3 linked regions of the Homo sapiens genome follow. The protein of the gene in region 3 interacts with the protein of the main gene of each other region in a pairwise test. Each region holds a gene or a part of one and is shown on either strand. Other genes may lie near its edges.

Region 1 (6,129 bases), on a different chromosome or scaffold from region 3:
CCTTCGGTTTGGGTCTCCAGGTATCTAAAAACTGTATTTAAATATGGTCGAGTTTAAGGACTGCAACTCAAGTTTCCCAATGTGGATGTCTGTGAGCCCCCACACATGAAAAAGTCAGAACTTGACTGTATTTTAAGAAGAATCTCTGTTGAGGGAGGAAGGCAGAGCAGTGACTTGGAATAGGGGTGCACCATGCTGAATGTGCTGATCATGCTAAGTCCAGGTCCTCAACCTCCTCCAGTTTCCTTAGTGAACTAAGGACCAGTGGAACCAGGAACCCTATCTTGTGGGTTACAGGGGCCAGCAGCAGGATCACAGTGGTAGGCTCAGCAAGGCGTCAGGTGAGAACCTTTATTTCAGTGATAATTCATTTTTCTTGATAACTGGACTTTAAGAAATAGAGGGGCAAAATTAAGAAAGTATTCCTTGGGGCGGGATGAAACCCTTCTACATCCTGACACCAGCAGACACAAATCATAAGTGATAAGGATGCACAAGGACTAATTTCAAACATACCAGGATTTTTTTATTTTTCAGTGTAAAAATCAAACATGATAAACCTAGAAAACTATCAGCAGGGCTATTTCTTACAGGGTTCCAGCAAGGGTTAGCATTGTTACATTTCAGAAGCTGACTTTCTTTAAACCATCTTTACAGAGGAGTAAACTTCACAGTTCCACACATGGCTGGGCTCCAGGTAGAACTCCATAGGAGTGACGAGGGAAAGTCACCACTGGGCAGGGAGGGCATTTCTGAGAAATGCAGATGAGAGGAGAGGCTGTGAGCACAGGCTGTGTCAAAACCCAGGGCAAGGGCTCCCTCCCGCCTTCCCTCCCAGTGGGAAGGCCACCCTGAGCCCCAAACCACATTCTGTTCCTTCCTCGTCATTCTGCAGACAATGGTCATCCACAGACCACACGTGTGGTGGCTTTGGCAACCAGAAATTTAAAATAAGCTATGGTTTTTCCAGTAGCCAAAATGATCCTGCACCAAAGCTCATAGACTGAGAACCTGAGCATGCAAAACCACAGTCTGGGTGAAGGGATGTCTGCTTTGTAAATGACCTGCTAATTCTTTGCAACCCACAGTAATTTGGTTTCTGTGAACCCACAGAAGCAGGCCCACCAAAAAGGGCCTTGTCTGCTAGCCTGGAGTATACATGAGTCACTGGCGGTGGGATCAGTCATTTTTTAGGCTGCCCCATTTTCCTAACATGTTAAAATGTGTGTTCTCAGTCTTTTCAAGAGAGGAAGAAGCAAAGCGGCACTTACAGAGTGTGAGATAGACACAGATCTGTGGCGAGGGATTGGGGAAGGTGGGTGGCATCTTGGGACTCTCTCCAGGCTTTCTGGAGTGGGGTCAGTGGAGAGATGAACAGTGAGAAACATTTGAAATAACTCAAGTTTTGGAGCAGCGGGGGGTGGGGTACTAATGGCTGAGGACTCACAGACAGTGAGGGAGCAAAGCGCTTTGACTTCCCTGGGTGCGACACCATGAAGTGTCTATAGCACGTGGTTAGCTCACGCTGGTTCCAAGGGTCAGCAGATCCTCTGCCCTTGTGCATTAAAACAACATGAAGGAAACTGTTAGAGATCAGTTACCTCCATAATTCATTTGTAAAGGAATTGCTATTATGATCTAGTATGATCTTGGGATATTTTTCATGTCTTTAAATTTAGGACACGGTACATTTTCCACTGAAAATTTACAATCATCCAACATAATGCACACCACCCCTCAAAGGTAACATTAGCTCATATACAAAATCATGGAAAACCTCACAACATCCTTGGAAGGTAGATATTGTTATATCCTTACAAAAATTTAATACACCCATTAACATTCCTATTTCAAATAGCTCAATCGATATCAACACATAAGACAGCCCACAATTGTGATACAGTATTAAGAAGAAACTCAGGCCAGCCGCGGTGCCTCACGCCTGTAACCCCAACACTTTGGGAGGCTGAGGTGGGCAGATTACTTGAGCCCAGGAGTTCAGGACCAGCCTGGGCAACATGGTGAGACCCTGTCTCTACAAAAAGTACAAAAATTAGCTGGGTGTGGTGACCCACGCCTGTAGTCTCAGCTAGTTGGGAGGCTAAGACGGGAGGATGGCTCGTTGCTTGAGCCCAGGAGGTTGAGGCGGCAAGTAAGCCTTGATTGTGCCACTGCACTCAGCCTGGGGAAACAGAGCGAGACTTTGTCTCAAAAAGAAAAAAAAAAAGAGGAAACTTGTATCCAATTTATTCAAACTGCAAAACCCTGTGTATCTTCATAACAATGGTGGGGCAAAGACTATCTACAGCTGGGGCAAGGGAGAGGCACAGTCTTGTGTTACTTTACAAGCTCTCAGAAGTTTAAAGCCCACAATTGTCCTTCAGGCTCTTCTGAGTCCATGGTCCTAAAGGGTCAGGAGTCCTGAACCCTGGCTTATTCTCAGAACCATTCAGTCGTGCTGCCTTGGAGAACAGAGTCCTTTTCCTGAGGTGGCCCAGGTCCAGCTGCTGGTTTCAGATCAAAATTGACCTCCTTCATCGGCACTTATATCTCAAATCATTCTCCTTGTCTGAACTCTGGATATAGAGGTTTTTTGAACTATACTTTCTGTGTGAACACAAAAATAGCTTCCCATTCTCTAAAAGATGAGGTATCACTATATATCGGGTTTTTTTCTTCTGTTCCTGGTGCTAACTTTTAGGACAAAGTTTCACCACTCCCTTTTCTCTTCTTGAGCTCACAAGTCCCGATGCTGACTCTTTGAGTCCTCAGATAGCCAGGCTCTTTCACATCTTGAGTGTCCCAGAGTTTCCAAATCTCTGCTAGAGTCCAACATACCTCTTCTCAGTGGGGTACTCTTTAAAGTGAGGACTTAAACATTTCCATTGTGGTCTTATCACCTGGGATTATATGTAACAGTACTATTTTTTTCCTTAAAACATTCTTTTTTTTTTTTTTTTTGAGATGGAGTCTCACTCTGTTGTCCAGGCTGGATTGCAATGGCGCGATCTCGGCTCACTGCAACCTCCACCTCCCAGGTTCAAGCAATTCTCCTGCGTCAGCCTCCCGAGTAGCTGGGATTACAGGTGTGCACCACCACACCCAGCTAATTTTTGTATTTTTTTTTTCGAGATGGAGTCTCACTCTGTCACCCAGGCTGGAGTGCAATGGCACGATCTCGGCTCACCACAACCTCCTCCTCCTGGGTTCAAGCGATTCTCCTGCCTCAGCCTCCTAAGTAGCTGGGATTACAGGCATGTGCCACCACGCCTGGCTAATTTTGTATTTTTAGTAGAGACAGGGTTTCTCCATGTTGGTCAGGCTGGTCTCGAACTCCCAAACTCAGGTGATCCGCCCGCCTTGGCCTCCCAAAGTGCTGGGATTACAGGCGTGAGCCACCGCACCTGACCCTCCTTAAAACATTCTAAACCTCACATTCAGTAGGGCTTGGGGAGGTGGGGGTGGTACAGGAAATAGGAGAATAATAGTGATACAGATGCTACCTGGAAAAACTTTGTTCTGTCTGTTCCTCACGAAACAAAGCCGAAAAGAAAAACTTTATGTGGATGTGAGATTTGATAGTAACACAGTGTTTCACCTGAGCAAAATTTTGTGTTTTTAAACATTTCTGTTTGCCAAAGAAATCTGAGGTTGTGGCTGGGCGCAGTGGCTCTTGCCTGTAGTTCCAGCACTTTGGGAGGCTGAGGTGGGCAGATTGCTTGAGCCCAGGATTTTGAGACTAGCCTGGGCAGTATGGCGAAACGCCATCTCTGCAGAAAAATACAAAAAAAATTAGCTGTGCATGGTGGTGTGCCTATAGTCCCAGCTACTTGGGAGGCTGAGGTAGGAGGATTGTTTGAGCCTAGGAGATCAAAATCTGAGGTCATTTTATATCTGGCCGATTTTGAGTATGGGCCTAACAAAATGTTAAGCACTGCATTTAAAAGGTGAGAAATTTTGTCACTGACAAAGTCAGAAGCTGTGTCAGGAACAGCTCACAGTGGGTCATAAAGCATAAGATTAGCTGGCTTATCTGTGCCAAGGCGAATGTCTTTTTGGGAGAATAACTTGAGGAAACTAAAGACTGATGAGTTCATTTTCTCTCTTTTTTTTTTCTGGTGGTAGTGGTGGGGGCTCACGGGAGAGACACTTCTATTTAGTTTTCTTTCCGTAGGAAGTACCGATGCAACACTTCAGGTAGTGACAGAAAACATTTGGAGAGCTGGGCATTGTTTGTGCATGCCTGTAATCCCAGCTACTTGGGAGGCTGAGGCAGGATTGCTTGAGCACAGGAGTTTGAGTCTGGCCTAGGCAACATAGTGAGACCCTGGTCCTCTAAAATATACATACATATATATACATATACAAAAAAAATAAAAATAAATTAAAAAATTAAAAAACACCTGGAGCACTGGTTCTGTTTCTTTTCCACCCTCAGCCCAGTTCTGTCACCTTGGCTGCAAGGAAACTTTGCCTGGGTTTTTTTGTTTGTTTGTTTGTTTTTGTTTTAGACAGAGTTTCGCTCTTGTTGCCGAGGCTGGAGTGCAGTGGTGCCATCTCGGCTCACCGCAACCTCCGCCTCCCGGGTTCAAGCGATTCTCCTGCCTCAGCCTCCTGAGTAGCTGGGATTACAGGCATGTGCCATCACGCCCGGCTAATTTTGTATTTTTAGTAGAGATGGGGGTTTCTCCATGTTGGTCAGGCAGGTCTCGAACTCCCAACCTCAGGTGATCTGCCTGCCCCAGCCTCCCAAAGTGCTGGCATTACAGGCGTGAGCTATCGCGCCCGGCCCTTTGCATGGGTTTGGTTGTTCCTCAGACCGTGGCCTCCTGGGTGTATGGTGGAAAGCCCGCCTGATAAGAGGCTGGTGGGAAATGAAGGAGAGGGGCCTACAAGGCTCTTGTTCAGAGGGAGTCTGCATGAGAAAGTACAGGTACTATCTGAAGCTGCTCCAGGGCTTCAGTGCCCAGCAGTGGCAGATGCAAGTCCTGACTCTGCCCTTCTGCTAAGATTCTCCTTCACCCTCACCTCCCCAGCCCTGGCAAGGGGTTTGTTAATTAGTACAGCATAAGGGGTATGTACAGAAGGCAGCGTTTATCTGTGTGATGGTAACCACTGCATATCTGGTTCAACTTCAAGACTTAAGGATGCAGAGTTTCCACACATAAATTTTTTCTGGAATTGATGGGCCCCAATCTAGGCTCAGAATGCCACAAAGAAAGTGCCTTTGTGAGTGGTCACCTTACTCAGAAAACTAACCTCAGAAGAATAGAAATCATGCAGCAAATTCATTAGTCACAGGAAAAAGGAGGATCATATCTATAAAAAGAGTCCCCAGGCTGGTGGAATGGGCCTTGGTTTCACAATCTTGAGATGCAAAAGGTGGTCTCAGGCTGGGTGCGGTAGCTCATGCCTGTAATCCCAGCACTGTGGGAGGCCAAGGCGGGCAGATCACCTGAGGTCAGGAGTTTGAGACTGGCCTGGCCAACATGGTGAAACCTTGTCTCTACTAAAAATACAAAAATTAGCCGGGCTTGGTGGTGAGCACCTGTAATCCCAGCTACTTGGGAGGCTGAGGCAGGAGAATTGCTTGAACCCGGGAGGCGGAGGTTGCCGTGAGCCGAGATCGCGCCACTGCACTCCAGCCTGGGCAACAGAGCGAGAGACTGTCTCAAAACAAAAGAAAACAAAAAAAGTTGGTCTCCTCTGCAAAGACTTGAACACTAATCTGGTGGAAAGGCTTCCTTTCCCTCGTTTTCTCTTCTACTAATCCCTGCTTCCAAATTCTCTTTCTCTTGTCCCTTGAAGAACCAACAGGATGTGCGATATTTCAAGAACGTAATGAGCAACTCCTCTTTCACAAAGGGAATAAGCAATCTGGCATAGCTTGGAGTCTAGTATTACGGAAATACAGTGATATACTGAAGACTACACACCAAAATACATCCATTCCTTTAGCTGAAGTCTCAAACATGTTGGGACTGTTGCCATGGAATTTCATAAAACCTTTTTTCCTGAGACAGACGCCATGCCACAAAGAAGGATAAGCCATTTGTGCAGTCTGAGGTGGAACATTTTAATTACTGGCAGCACATAGACGAGTTGAGTTGGAGCCGAATGCATAAGCCC
Region 2 (7,034 bases), on a different chromosome or scaffold from region 3:
CTTATACATCTAGCTCTTTTAAATTTAATAACCAACACTCTGAAGTAGAGATATTACTGTTATTTTTTAAAATAATAGCCAAGGTACTATACATTTATTGTCCTATTATTAATCTTCGCAATGACCCAGTGAGACAGAGACTATTTTATTATTCCTGTCTTGCAGGTGATGAAAGAGGTTAAACAAATTTTCCAAGACGATGTGGCTAGTGAAACAGATCTGTGACTAGAAGCAAAGCCCTTCTCTCTCTCTCTTTTTTTTTTTTTGAGACGAAGTCTTGCTCTGTCGCCAGGCTGGAGTGCAGTGGCGCGATCTCGGCTCACTGCAACCTCCACCTCCCGGGTTCAGGTGATTCCCCTGCCTCAGCCTTCCGAGTATCTCGGACTACAGGCATGCACCACCACGCCTGGCTAATTTTTTGTATTTTAGTAGGGACGGGGTTTCACCATGTTGGCCAGGACGGTCTCAATCTCCTGACCTCGTGATCCACCCACCTTGGCCTCCCAAAGTGCTGGGATTACAGGCATGAGCCACCATGCCCGGCCAGCAAAGCCCTTCTCTTAACGAGTATGCTGTTTTGCCTCCCTTTACTCTTCAGGGCAACTGAAACTTCAGGAATATGTGACCTGGCCAAGGTTGAATAGCTATGAAGTAGAAATGCTTGAACTCGGGTCGGTAGAATTGTGTTATGGCTAACATCCCACCAAATAATCAGTTGTAAACAGAAAGTTTTAGAGAAATGCACAGTTTTAAAAAAATTAAACAGATTTTGGAAATATACAGGTGTTATAATTTAGATTTTGGAAATATACAGGTGTTATAACTTAGCTTGTTTACATCATTGGCCAGATGATAACGGGCCTCTTCATAGTTTTTCTTAGCTATATAGAGAAGTCCCAGATTCCGATGCAGTAAAGAGTGGGTGGCATTACTACAGTCAGTTGATTTGAGGACTGTCCACTGGGCTTGGAATAGATATTCTTCAGCCTGAACGATTCGGCCCAGACCTGCCCAAAAGCAGAAAAGAAGGTTATAATTCATATCCAGGCCAAAGAACACATGAGGAAATATGAGTCATTACCCATTCACTCATGTATTCATTGACTCAAGTATTTATTGACACAGAAAAACTCATACAGGAATGTTCACAGCAGCCTATTTGGAAGAGTAAAAAAAAAAAAAACAGAAACAATGTAAATGTCCATCAGCTGATGAGTGGATGAACAAAAGGAGGCATCTCCATCTCCATCTCCATCTCCATCTCCATGAGTGGAATATTACTCAGTCATAAGAAGGAATGAAGTAGTGCTACCTGCTATAATGTGGATGAACTTTGAAAACACTATACTAAGTGAAAGAAACCAGACACCAAAGGCCACATATTGTATGATTCCATTTATATGAAATGTCCAGAATAGGCAAATCCATAGAGACGGAAAGTAGACTAGTGGTGGCCAGGCGACAGGGGGAGTCCAATGCAAGGGAGGCACTAACAGGGGGTCCAATGCAAGGGAGGCACTAAGAGGGAGTAACTGCTGACAATTACAGGCTTTCTTTTAGGGGTGATGAAAATGTTGTGGAAATAGATCATGGTGATTGTTGCACAACCTTCAGAATGTGCTAAAACCAACCACTGGATTGTCCTTTTTTTGTTGTTGTTGTTGTTTTTTTGAGGGAGTCTCACTTTGTTGCCCAGACTGGAGTGTAGTGGCGCGATCTCGGCTCACTACAACCTCTGCCTTCAGGTTCAAGTGATTCTCATGCCTCAGCCTTCCAAGTAGCTGGGACTGCAAGCATGCACCACCACGCCCCACTAATTTTGTATTTTTAGTAGAGACAGGGTTTCACCATGTTTGCCAGGCTGGTCTCAAACCCCTGACATCAGGTGATCCACCCACCTCGACCTCCCAAAGTGCTGGGAATACAGGCGTGAGACACTGTGTCTGGCCTTAATTGTTCTTTAAAAGGGTAAATTTTATGATATGTGAATTATATCTCAATTGTGAAATATATATATGCATATTTAATACCCTTTCTGTGCCAGGCCTTGTGTTGGGTGATGGGGAATCAAAGTGCAACATGAAAACAAATATATTTACAATATAGTATAATTGCAATAGCAACACAAGCTTTGGAAGTGTCAGAGGATAGGAAATGTTTAATTCTATAGATGAGATGGAGAGGGACACTGAAGCAGAGTCTGAGCTGGGTTTTGAGGATGAATAGAAGTTTTCCAGGTAGATAAGGCAGGGAGAGCATCCCAGGCAGAAGTAACAGCATGTGCAATGTCATAGAAATATGAAATAATATGTTATGTTCATAGAACTATATAGAGTCACAGCTGCAGGGAACTGGTTCCAGAACCCCCATCAGATACCTAAATATAAGGATGCTCAAGGCTCTAATATAAAGTAGTGTAGTATTTGCATATAACCTATGCACATCATTCCCTATGCTTTAAATCATCTCTAAATTACTTATAATACCTAATACAAAGTAAATGCTATGTAAATAGTTGTTCTACTATATCATTTTTGTCTTTTTTGTTTACATTTTTTCTTTTTTTGTTTATAAGCCCACAAGTAACATCATGTATTGTTTTGTTTTGTTTTGTTTTTTTGAGACGGAGTCTTGCTCTGTCGCCCAGGCTGGAGTGCAGTGGCGGGATCTCGGCTCACTGCAAGCTCCGCCTCCCAGGTTCACGCCATTCTCCTGCCTCAGCCTCCCAAGTAGCTGGGACTACAGGCGCCCGCCACTACGCCCGGCTAATTTTTTGTATTTTTAGTAGAGACGGGGTTTCACCGTTTTAGCCGGGATGGTCTCGATCTCCTGACCTTGTGATCCGCCCGCCTCGGCCTCCCAAAGTGCTGGGATTACAGGCGTGAGCCACCGCACCCGGCCGTATTGTTTTTATTTGTATCATTTTTAATCATTGTATTATTTTTAAAAATATTTTTGACCCATGGTTGCTTGAATGGGCAGATGCAGAACCTACAAATATGGAGGGTGTAGGGACTGTATCGGCCTGTGATGCTGGAGCACAAATTGTGAAAGACAGAATGGCAGAAAATGAGGCTATGGTGGTAGGCAGGGGGCAGGTCATGGAGGGCTTAGTGAGTTATACCAAGGAACTTGATGCATGTGGATAAAAACTAGAGGATTTTCAAAAAGGGCGAGAGAATCAGATTTAAATTTAGAAAGATCCTCTGGAACCAATGTGGAGGAGGGACCAGAGGGGAGGAATAAAGGTAGAAGATTCACTGGAAGATGTCTGAAATAGTTCGGACAAGCACGCTTAAGAGCCTGAAACAAGACAGTGAACTAAAGAGGAGGAGATCAAAAAGAGACAGGAAGTAAAATGGACAACACACGGTTACTAAGTAATGTGGAAGGTAAGAGAAAGGAAAGCCACATTTATTGCTAATATTTAGATACTCTTGACACTTAAAGCTTTTTGTGTATTACATATCATCTTTATATATACAGAGGCCTGCCTACCTGCTTGACTCCTGGGGAAATTTGTCAGAACAGAATAGAAAGCCACTACGTCAGTGTGCTGCAGGGTAGGAGGCGTGCTCTGGGGGCGAAGCATTGGTGTGATAGGTGCTGCAGCAGAAATGGCATCAACAAAGGGTTAAGAGGTAAGGACACGAACCCCTCATAAGCCAACCCTCTGCTCCTCTGTGTCCTTCCTGTCAGACCTAGTTCATATGTAAGCATGCTTTTATTCTAGTTGTAACCCTACATCACTGAATTAAAGGAAAAGAGATGAAGAGGAAGCAGTCTACAAGAAGAAGGAAGTAACTTTGCCTGATGGAAGGTCAAAGTGCAAACTAAAATGGGAAACTACTAGATTAGGAGCACGAGGCCTAGTCCCTGATCCTGGCTCATGTGAACATGGCAAGTCACATCTTCCCTCCAGGCTTTGTCTATAAAATATGAGGTTTAGGCTGAAGTCCTCTCACATTTGAAGAAGCAAATGACTCTTAACTAAGATTGTTTAGATGGGAAAAAAATGGGACAGGGCATTGACAAATATTGGAAATTTAAAATTTTCAACATCCAGTTCTCACTCAAGGAGGCAATGCCAAAGAATGAAGACTCCAAGGCCCAGCTGAACCAGCATCTAAACAAGCATCAGTCCTAAAGGAAAAGGCATACTTGGGAGAATAAACTGTGAGGCTAGAGAGAGAGAGTACGGTGAGAAGAATGGGCTACTACTAGCCCATGAGATTACAGTCAGAACTAAGCTTGTGACCAGTGAGTGCGTAAGTTCAGGCCTGCCTCTTATGGACAGTGCCTACCTGGAGAGGCATAGGGTGAAGTGGAGGTGGTGGAGACATAAAGGAAGTGATACTATCCCTTAGGGTGATTTTACTAGTGTATGGAATTGGGAAAGGACAGCCACTTACAGACCAGTGGTACTTGTCTGAAGGGTGAGGCAACAGGCTTACACTGGGTTAACGGCAGATCTGGGAGATATTATGGGAGAAGATTTTGCAGGACTTGGTGATGAAAGTGAAGGAATGCAGCATACAGCAGTCACAGCTGAGTCAAAGGTTGTGGCTGTGAGGTGCCCAGGGGAAGAAAAGGGAATCTGTATTTATTGAAGACCTGTTATTTGCCCAACATTGTGCTAGTCCCTTTGCATCGGTGGTCTAAGTCTGCTAACAACCCTGTGAAATAATCATCAGATGAGGAATTTGAAGAGGAGGCAACTTCATTCATTCATTCAACCAAACATATATTCACCTAATTGATTGAGTCTCTATCACAATGCATGATGCTCAATGCACACTAAGACATGATCCCTGACTCCAAGAAGCTTAAAATCAAGTGAAGTAGGCATACAATAAATAGACAAAACATGAGTGCTGTGAAGGAAATGAACAGAACACAGTAACCAAAATCCTAGCTCACTGCAGCCTCCACCTGCTGGGCTCAAGCAATCCTCCCACCTCAGTCTCCCAAGTAGCTGGGACTACTATAAGTGCATGCCACCATGACCGCCTAATTTTTTTGTTTTAAGAGATGAGGTCTTGCTAGGTTGCCCAGGCTGATCTTGAATTCCTGGGCTCAAGAGATCCTCCCATTTCGACTTCCCGAAGTGCTGAAATTACAGGTGGGAGTCACCATGCCTGGCCAGTTTAAGCAGACACCTGAAGGATGATCAAAAGCCAGCCACGTATGAGAGAGAAAAGAGCATCCCAGGCAGAAGGAACCATATATGTGAGAGCTCTGAGTGAGGAAGAGCTTGGTGCCTACGATCACCCAGACAGTAAAGAAAGAGATGATATTTGAACTCAGGCTCTCCTGCTTCCAAATCACTCCAGTCTGAAGTAATCTCTAAGATGGGAAAGAAACATGTGCACAGGAAAGTGATTTCTTTAGACTTCCAGAAACGTTAGCAAGGTTTTAAACCAATGACTGTGAAGTTACAGTGAAATCTTCCATTTAGACAGTACTTTCCAGACTTCAAAGCACTTTCATGGTCATTACACTCGAACTCATTTCACCCTTAAAAGAATCCTGTGAAGACAACTCAGATTCAACACATACTTACACAGTGCTCACGAGGTTTCAGGTACTGTGAAATTATCTTTTTAGTACCTTCTCTGTGCTAAGTACTGGGCTGAGTGTGAAGACATCCGTGATAATTAAGAATAGACACAGATCCAGTTCTCCCCTGAGCTTACAGTCTACTGGAGCAGGGAGACAATTAAATAATCTCATCAATGAATACAATTATTAATGGACTAAGTGCTCAGAAGAAAGGAGTAGTTCTTTTTTTTTTTTTTTTTTTTGAGACGGAGTCTCGCTCTGTCACCCAGGCTGGAGTGCAGTAGTGGTGCGATCTCCTCTCACTGTAAGCTCCGCCCCCCGGGTTCATGCCATTCTCCTGCTCCAGCCTCCAGAGTAGTTGGGACTACAGGCACCCGCCACCACGCCCGGCTAATTTTTTTGTATTTTTAGTAGAGACAGGGTTTCACCGTGTTCGCCAGGATGGTCTCGATCTCCTGACCTCGTGATCCGCCCACCTCAGCCTGCCAAAGTGCTGGGATTACAGGTGTGAGCCACCGTGCCCGGCCAGAAAGGGTAGTTCTTTAAACAAGTATATTAAAAATGAGACCCAGCTGGGTGCGGTGGCTCACACCTGTAATCCCAGCACTTTGGAAGACTGAGGTGGGTGGATCATTTGAAGCCAGGAGTTCAAGACCAGCCTGGGCAACATACTGAAACCCTATCTCTACTAAAACTACAAAAAATAGCTGGGCGTGGTGGTGCGTGCCTGTAGTCCTAGCTACTCGGGAGGCTGAGGTGGGAGAATCACTTGTCCCTGGGAGGCAGAGGTTGCAGTGAGCCAAGATCAGGCCATTGCACTCCAGCCTGTACAACAGATCGGGACTCCGTCTAAAAAAAAAAAAAAAAAAGGGGAGACCCAACCTGGTCTGGAGCCCTGGGAAAGCTTCTAGACAAGGCAGTAGTAACCCTTGAGCTGAAACCTGAAAGATGATAAGGAGTTAATTTGGTGAAGGGAAGAGGAGGAGAAGCAGAGAGAGTGGCTACAGAAAAGCCTTTCCAAACAAGGAAATCATCATGCTTCTGAGGAACTGAGAGAAGGCCGGTCGGTGTAACTGGAAGGGAGGGAGAAAATAATTCAAGAGAGACAAGGTGATAGAATTGAGGTGAGAGAATTTGTTAACGGCTAGATCAAGCAGAGCCTCATGGGTTGCTTTAGAAATTTGATCTTTATTTAGAGGAGTGATGGGTCACATTTTTGTATGCAAACCACATTGGAGGGAGGCCAGAGATGATGTGGGGAGACCAGTTAGTAGGCAGTGGTCTAGATGAGAGATGATGAGACTTGGGCTAGGGTGACTTTTCCAGAATCCCATAGCTAGCCAGTGTCAGAGGTAAACAGAACCTGGGCTGTATTTTCTTGTCCAGTGCTTTTCTCATTACTTTGGAGGAAAGACAGTCTGGAATGGGGTGTCAGACCTGGGCAGGGTGAGCAGGGCATTCCTGCAGGCAAA
Region 3 (7,979 bases):
AAAGACAGGGTTGCGCTATGTTGCCCAGCCTGGTCTCAAACTTCTGGGTTCAAGCAATCCCTTCACTTCAGCCTCCCAATGTGCTGGGATTATAGGCATGAGCCTCCGTTCCCAGCCAAAAGTGAAAATATTTAAAAGCTGAAAGCCAACAGTTTTAACAAAATTCCAATTACAACCAGAAAGATTCCTAAATAAAGATGCAAATAAAGTGGAATTATTATCTTGTTATCAAGACTAAATGGTTTACTGAAGCTTCAGGGAGGAAAAATGGTACTATTATAGAAAACTGGATGGAGCAGTTTCAAGCACACCGGAAATACAAGAGTATACACACCTATGCTCATTAGACTAGAAAGCCCACACACATCAGAAAGATGGGTAATGGCAAACATCACGTAAAAGAACACACAGCTATGCGAGATTTTTGATTTGTTAACTAAGATCAAGACAAGATTAGTAGGAAGTGTCACTGGGATGAAATATTCAAAGGGAAAAGTGGTTGTTTTACAGTGAGTCAAGTGGACTGTTGTAAGTCTCCTCCTTGGGAAGAAACACAATTTGTACAGTACTTGTTGGTGCTGGCCTAAGGCAGTAACTCAACGGCCAAATGTGGCTTTAAAACCCATTGTCTATTAACAGCACAGTGGGTTCTAAAATCAAAGACAATTCCTACACTTAAGGAACTTACAAACGTCTGGCTTTTCTCATAAAATCCACCCATGGAAGGGAAATGCTGCCTAAATTCCCACCTGGTAAGTGATGTCAGGCCTCGCAGGCTCAGCATTACTTCCTCCACTGAAGCCCCCAGTAATGGCGTGACCCAATGTGTGCCCCACAGCAGAGCCCACAGCCACGCCAGCTGCAGTGGTTGCCATCTGGGCCATCAGACCTGGCTGCCGGGGCGCAGCAGCAGAAGAGCCAACTGCAGATGGGGGTGCCGCTGCTGGTGGCTGAGCGACTGGTGCTGGCCTGGGTGCAGCTCTCATCTGAGGGGCCCGGCTGTGAAAGAAAAGAAAAAAACATCAAGTTCCCAATTCCAACCAGTTTTGGAAATTGTCAACTTAAAATAACTTACATATTAAAATGGACCTCAAGATTTTCATTTCAAATTATTTACATCATTTTCTCTCTTCAATTTTTTTTTTTTTGAGATGGAGCTTCGCTCTTGTTGCCCAGGCTGGAGTGCAATGGTGCAATCTCAGCTCACTGCAACCTCCACCTCCCAGACTCAAGCGATTCTCTTGCCTCAGCCTTCCGAGTAGCTGGGATTACAGGCACCCGCGACCACCTCCGGCTAATTTTTTGTATTTTTAGTTGAGACGAGGTTTCACTATGGTGACCATGGCTGGTCTCCAGCTCCTGACCTCAGGTGATCCACCCGCCTCGGACTCCCAAAGTGCTGGGATTACAGGTGTGAACCACCACGCACGGCCTAATTTTTTTTTTTTTTTTGAGACAGGGCCTCACTCTGATGCCCAGACTGGAGTGCAGTGTCACGATCCAATCTCACTGCAACCTCTGCCTCCTGGGTTCAACCGATTCTTCTGCCTCCGCTTCCCAAGTAGCTGGGATTACAGGCGCGCACCACCACACCTAGCTAATTTTTGTATTTCTAGTAGAGACGGAGTTTCACCATGTTGGCCAGGCTCGTCTCGAACTCCTGACCTCAAGTGATCCACCCGCCTCGACCTCCCAAAGTGTTGGGATTACAGGCATGAGCCACCACGCCCGGCCACTTTAATCTTTTCTTATAATAGTAATAGCCTAGGACATACTAGTTTTTTCTGCTTCTTTGCAACAATTTCCATGTATTCGGATAGCCCACAGTATCTTTAAAGACATATCCAACATGTCATAAGAAATACAGACTACTAAAAGTTAGAAAGATTCTTACAGGATTCATTCATTCAAGTATTAGGTAACTACAAGGCGCTGGTAATGTAACTGTGAACAAGAGACAAAAATCTCTGCATTCATGGAGTTTACATTTTATTGACGGATCAAATAATTAACATAGGCTGCGGAGTGGTGGCTCTTGCCTGTAATCCCAGTGATTAGGGAAGTGGAGGCGAAAGGATCATTTGAGGCCAGGACTTTGAGACCAGCCAGGGCCACATAATGAGACCCTGTCTCTGCTAAAATATAAAATAGAATAAAGTCGCCAAGTGTGGTGCACAGGTGGCGCATGCCTGTAGTCCCAGTTACTCTGGAGGCTGACGTGGTAGAATAGCTTGAGCCCAGGAAGTCAAGGCTGCAGTTAGCCATAATTACGTCACTGCACTACAGCCTGAGTTAGACTCTGACTCAAAATATAAATAAATAAACATTCTAATTAGGACTTAAAGATGGTCAACTGGGGAAATAATCTAGTCCAATTCCTTCATTTTACACATTACAAAACAAGACTGGCCAAAGTGACTCGTCTGAACTATTATACCAAAAGCAACTTCAACTATTCCTCATCTGTTCAACGTTCAGATGCTTTCAACAATTTCGAGACCCCTTCTCAAATAACAAAAGACTAATTATGTCCTGCACGTATTTAAAAATCTTCATATGTATCACGCTCCCTCTGACCATTTCCGGATTATTTCCTTGGGTGCTCTTTTCCCCGAAATCAAGCTAGGTCAAAATTTATGCCTTCCTACCACCTGGCCATAACGTTATGCCTTTCCCGTTGTTTGGATAGGAAGCTTTTTCCGTAAGTGAATTCCCTCCCCACACTCCCCTAACATAGGCTTTACGTTCAATCTACCCCCGCCTGGCAGAGGCGAGCCCACGCCGCAGCCGACCTTAGTTCACCCCCGCCCGCGGCCTCCCTCTGCGTCATTGCCCCAGTAGAGTCCGGACGGCCGCGCTTTGGTCTCAAACCCTGCGATGGTCTCACCTGGCCGGAGGGGCCATGCGGGAGGTGCGGCTTCGGCTTCCACGCGGCATCCTAGGTAAGCGACGGCTAGGCCTCCGGACGTGGGACAACCACCGAAGAGCTAAGCGACTTCTGAGGAGACCGGAAGATGGGAGGCGGGGCTGGCCTCAACGCGCAACCAACCAGCACACAGGCAGAGAACTTCCGTTCTCCGTCGTCTCCGCAGGCCTGAAGTTCATTGGAAGAGCAGGACGTCACGGGGACGCCTCGTCCTTCGCGGTCAACGCCCTGAACTTGGCGCCAGGATCTTTAAAACCCGGAAGTTCCTGTGGTTCATCCGCGAACCTTGTCCTCCGGTCCTCGCATCAGAGCACTTAGCATTTTGCTTCCCTAGGGCAGCTGGCCTGTCGCTCCGTCCTTCAAACATTTGTATTAAATCCAACCTTAAGAGTGACTCACATCTCTGGCTGGATTGCCAGGGGACCTTGGGCAGATTTCTTAGCCTTTCTGAGCATTCAGTTATAAGGGCAAATATTTTTGGAGGCACAGTGTGGACGCGTAGTATGAACTGAATGAAAGAAATCGGTTTCGTCAAAAATAAACAGAGTTGAATTAGTTGTATTTGGTATTTCTCTTTCTTGTCTGTGGATCCAGTCAGCAAAAGTTAAATTCAGGCAGCAATAATGTTTTACATTTATGTATTACTATATATTTTCAGCTCCTTTTCATATGTATTATAGAATTTGTGTCCAGAATTGGGACAGTAACCATACACTGGTAAATTCAACAAAAATTTACTGTCTAACTGGGTTATGGAGATACTGCACCAAATCAGATAAGATTCTACCTTCACGAAGTTAAGTTTCAAGGAGGGGAGACACAAACGCCTACGTAAATCAGGTGGTGGTGACATGAAAAGAGAGGAAGGAGACTGGAAATTAGAGGTTAGGCGGGGCGGGGGGGAGTCATTTGAACGGAGCCCTTGAAGAGGTGGGGAAGCAAGCCATGTGTTTATGAAGATAAGAACACTACAGGAAGAGAGAACAGCAATTGCAAAGGCCCCAAGGATCTGTGCTTTAGTGATACTTGGTGTGAAATGCTTTTTTTTTTTTTTTGAGACGGAGTCTGGCTCTGTCGCCCAGGCTGGAGTGCAGTGGCGCGTTCTCAGCTCACTGCAGCCTCCGCCTCCCGGATTCAAGCGATTCTCCTGCCTCAGCCTTCCGAGTAGTTGGGATTACAGGCGCACGTCAACCCGCCTGGCTAATTTTTTATTTTAGTAGAAACAGGGTTTCGCCATGTTGGTCAGGCTGGTCTTGAGCTCTTGACCTCAGGTGATCCATCTACCTCGGCCTGCAAGGGCTGGGATTACAGGCATAAGCCACCAGGCCCAGCCTGAAATGCTTTCAACAGTTACATTAAACATCGCTAAAATAAGGGGAAATTTGGCTAGTGGCATTTCATAAGGGGCTCATGGGAAAGTCCCTTGCGGTTGGAGTGAGGTTTATTGAGGAGAGGAAGCACACATGGAACCATTTCTGCTTGATGTCAATCAGAAATTTCTCCCTTCCATCAGAGGAAGTAGAGTTTAAAACAGCCTTCCTGTGTCCCAGCAACAGCAGAATGTACTTGGAACTAAAGGGTGAATAATGTGGCAGCTAAGCTATGAGGATGCAAAGGCAAAAGAATGATATAATGGGCTCTGGGGATTTGGAGGGATGTGCTAGGTGGGTAAGGGATAAAAGACTACACTGTTGAGTACGGTGTACATTGCTCAGGTGATGGGTGCATCAAAACCTCAGAAATCACCACTAAAGAACTTTTCCATGTAACCAAACACCACCTGTTCCCCCAAAAGTATTGAAATAAAAAGATTTCAAACAATAAAAAGGGTGAATTATATAAAAATCTTTTGTAAAAAACAAAGCTTTATTTTTACATAACTTCTTAAAAGAATGAATGCTTTACAAATAATAAGACTTTTTACTTGCTTTTAGATAATTCAAAAGCAGAGATGAAGAAAAGCAGTCTTATAAAGGATACATTCTGGCACAAGAAGGGTTTAGAGCGAGGAGAACTTTGGACAGTTCAAGACAGAAAGGAATCCAGACCAGAACAGGCACCATTTTACTCAAACGTGGCTAAGTCATTCATTCCTAAATTGAAAGACTATTAGATGTTCACACAAAGTTATTTTGTGTTGGTAAGGGATTGGAGAAAACCTAAATTCCTGCCAATAGAATATTGGTTAAAAAAATAATGGCAGGCTGGGCGTGGTGGCTCACGCCTGTAATTCCAGCACTTTGGGAGGCCGAGGTGGGCAGATCACAAGGTCAGCAGATTGAGACCATCCTGGCTAACATGGTGAAACCCTGTCTCTAGTAAAAATACAAAAATTAGCCGGGTGAGGTGGCACGTGCCTGTAGTCCCAGCTACTCGGGAGGCTGAGGCAGGAGAATGGCGTGATCCCAGGAGGCAGAGGTTGCAGTGAGCCAAGATTGCACCACTGCATTCCAGCCTGGGCGACAGCAAGACTCCATCTCAAAAAAAAAAAAAAAAAAAAAAGACACATTCACATAATATGCAACTATAAAAAAAGAATGAGGAATCTTCTCTGTATATTGATGTGAAATGATTTCCAAAATAAACTACAAGTGATAAAAAAAAGGAAGGGGTAGAATTGAGTACAGTGTGCTATTATTTGTGTAAAACAGAAAAGACCATATTGGATATGCATAAAATATCTGAAGTTGATAACACTGGTTGCCTTCAGGCAGTGGGACTGGGTGTCTGTGGTGCGGGGGGCAGTCAGTAGCTTTTGGATTTTGAAGCAGTTAATCTATTCTATCCAAAAAACAAATTAAGAAAAAGTTAATTAAAACAAAGAACAAAAAACTCAGAATGGAAAATACCAGAATTCTGCTATATACCATTTATAGTTTGCTGGGACAGATGTGTGAAGTTCACTCTGTTTTTTTGAGACAGAGTTTCGCTCTTGTTGCCCAGGCGCAATCTTGGCTCGCTGCAACCTCCACCTCACAGGTTGAAGCAATTCTCCTGCCTCAGCCTCGCAAGTAGCTGGGATTACAGGTGTGCACCACCATACCTGACTAATTTTGTATTTTTAGTAGAGATGGGGTTTCACCATGTTGGTTAGGCTGGTCTCAAACTCCTGACCTCAAGTGATCCACCTGCCTTGGCCTCCCAAAGTGCTAGAATTACAAGTGTGAGCCACTGTGCCTGGCTAGTTCACTCTTTAGTAAAATTTCTATAGCAACTTCTCATCCCATAGTGATTTCAGTCACTCTCAACAAATTTACTTACAGTTATTAATATCCGAACTTTTGCAGGTTTTATCATAGATATGACATTGGCTGAATGGACTCTTGAATATTGTAGTAAACATTCTGCTCAAATTAGGTAACAGGTGTTTGAAGTTTTAAAATTATGCAAACTGTATTCCAGAAATTTTACTTCTAGGAATTTAAGAAACAGTGAAGATTGTACAAATAAATGTGTCGTAGGGATGTTTATTTAACAAAATGTGTAAAACAGGAAAAACTTGTAAACAACCTAAGTGTCCTATAATAGAATTCGTTAAATAAGTTATGATACATATATATGATGAAATGTATGCAGCCATTAAAAAATATTATGAGGGGCTGGGCACGGTGGATCAAACCTGTAATCCCAGCACTTTGGGGAGCTGAGGTGGGTGGATCACTTGAGGTCAGGAGTTTGAGACCAGCCTGGCCAACATGGTGAAACCCCATCTCTACTAAAAATACAAAAAATTATCTGGGTGTGGGTGGCTCATGCTTGTAATCCCAGCTACTTGGGAGGCTGAGACAGGAGAATTGCTTGAACCCGGGAGGCGGAGGTTGCAGTGAGTAGAGATTGCACCACTGCACTCCAGCCTGGGCGACAAGAAGGAAACTCCGTCTCAAGAAAAAAAAAAGTTAGGAAAGAATATTTGACGTGAAAGGTATTTTTACAATACATACAATACATTGTGTGAAAGAGAAGATTACACAATAGTACACAGTGTGTTTATAGTTTGAGAAAGTAAATATATATTTTGAATATTGGAATTATATATACCCAACTAGTACTGTCATCCATTGAGTCATGGAATTATAAGTGACTTTTTTTTTTTTTGCTTGTCCCTATTTTCCAGTTTTTCTACAGTGACCATACTTGCCATAATTAAACATAGCATGGTAGTTTAAAATATGTCCACAAATTCTTTGATATTCTCTTCAAAAGGTGGAGCCCAGTCCCTATCCCCTTGAGTGGGGGCTGGGTTAACTGATTCCCTTCTGACAGATAGGAAAAAGCAAAAGTGATGGTTTGCAACTTTGCAAACTACATCATAAAAGGTACTGTGGCTTCCTCCTTGTTCACTCTTTGATTACTCACTTGGGAAAGCCAGCTGTCACACCATGACACCTAAGCAGCCTGTAGAGAGGCTCATGTGACAGGAAGTGAGGCCTCAGGTCAGCAGTCACCTTAAGTGAGCCACCTTGGAAACAGGCTTTAGGTGACTGCAGTCTCAGTCGACAGCTTGACTGCAATGTCATGAGACACCCTGAGCCCAAATGACCCAGCTATGTCACTCCTGAATTCCTGACCCACAGAAATGGAGATCTAAGTTTTTTTTATATTTATTTATTTTTGAGACAGTCTCTCACTCTGTCACCCAGGCTGGAGTGCAGTGGTGTGATCTTGGCTCACTACAACCTCTGCCCCCCGGGCTCAAGTGATTCTCCTGCATCAGCGTCCTGAGTAGCTGGGACCACAGGTGCGCACCACCATGGTTGGCTAATTTTTGCATTTTCTGTAGAGATGGAGTCTCATGATGTCGCCCAGGCTGGTCTTGAACTTCTGGACTTGTGATCTGCCCACCTCGGCCTCCCAAAGTGTTGGGATTACAGGCATGAGCCACTGTGCCTGGCCCTAAGTATTTATTTTAAGCCACTAGGTTTGGAGTAATTTGTTACATAGCAGTAGATAAGTAATACACATATTTCCTACAGTGACCACATTTACAATTTAAATTTAATTAAAAAGGCCAGGTGCAGTGGCTCATGCCTGTAATCCCAGCACTTTGGGAGGC

Evidence for each region. Proteins that work in one complex are often made in the same cells at the same time.
Region 1: the proteins of CHCHD2 (region 3) and IKZF3 interact in binary tests that used the Homo sapiens proteins (3 or more experiments, as listed by UniProt).
Region 2: the proteins of CHCHD2 (region 3) and ZMYND12 interact in binary tests that used the Homo sapiens proteins (3 or more experiments, as listed by UniProt).

The regions. Positions count from the first base shown.
Region 1 is NC_000017.11:39,757,214-39,763,342, forward strand, and holds the end of IKZF3 (zinc finger protein Aiolos), read right to left. Parts: 3' UTR 505-6,129; downstream 1-504. UniProt on the Homo sapiens protein: Transcription factor that plays an important role in the regulation of lymphocyte differentiation. Plays an essential role in regulation of B-cell differentiation, proliferation and maturation to an effector state.
Region 2 is NC_000001.11:42,439,019-42,446,052, forward strand, and holds part of ZMYND12 (zinc finger MYND domain-containing protein 12), read right to left. Parts: intron 1,008-7,034; coding exon 838-1,007; intron 1-837. UniProt on the Homo sapiens protein: Required for sperm flagellum function and male fertility.
Region 3 is NC_000007.14:56,103,477-56,111,455, forward strand, and holds the start of CHCHD2 (coiled-coil-helix-coiled-coil-helix domain-containing protein 2 isoform 2 precursor), read right to left. Parts: upstream 3,001-7,979; 5' UTR 2,938-3,000; coding exon 2,888-2,937; intron 1,000-2,887; coding exon 750-999; intron 1-749. UniProt on the Homo sapiens protein: Transcription factor. Binds to the oxygen responsive element of COX4I2 and activates its transcription under hypoxia conditions (4% oxygen), as well as normoxia conditions (20% oxygen).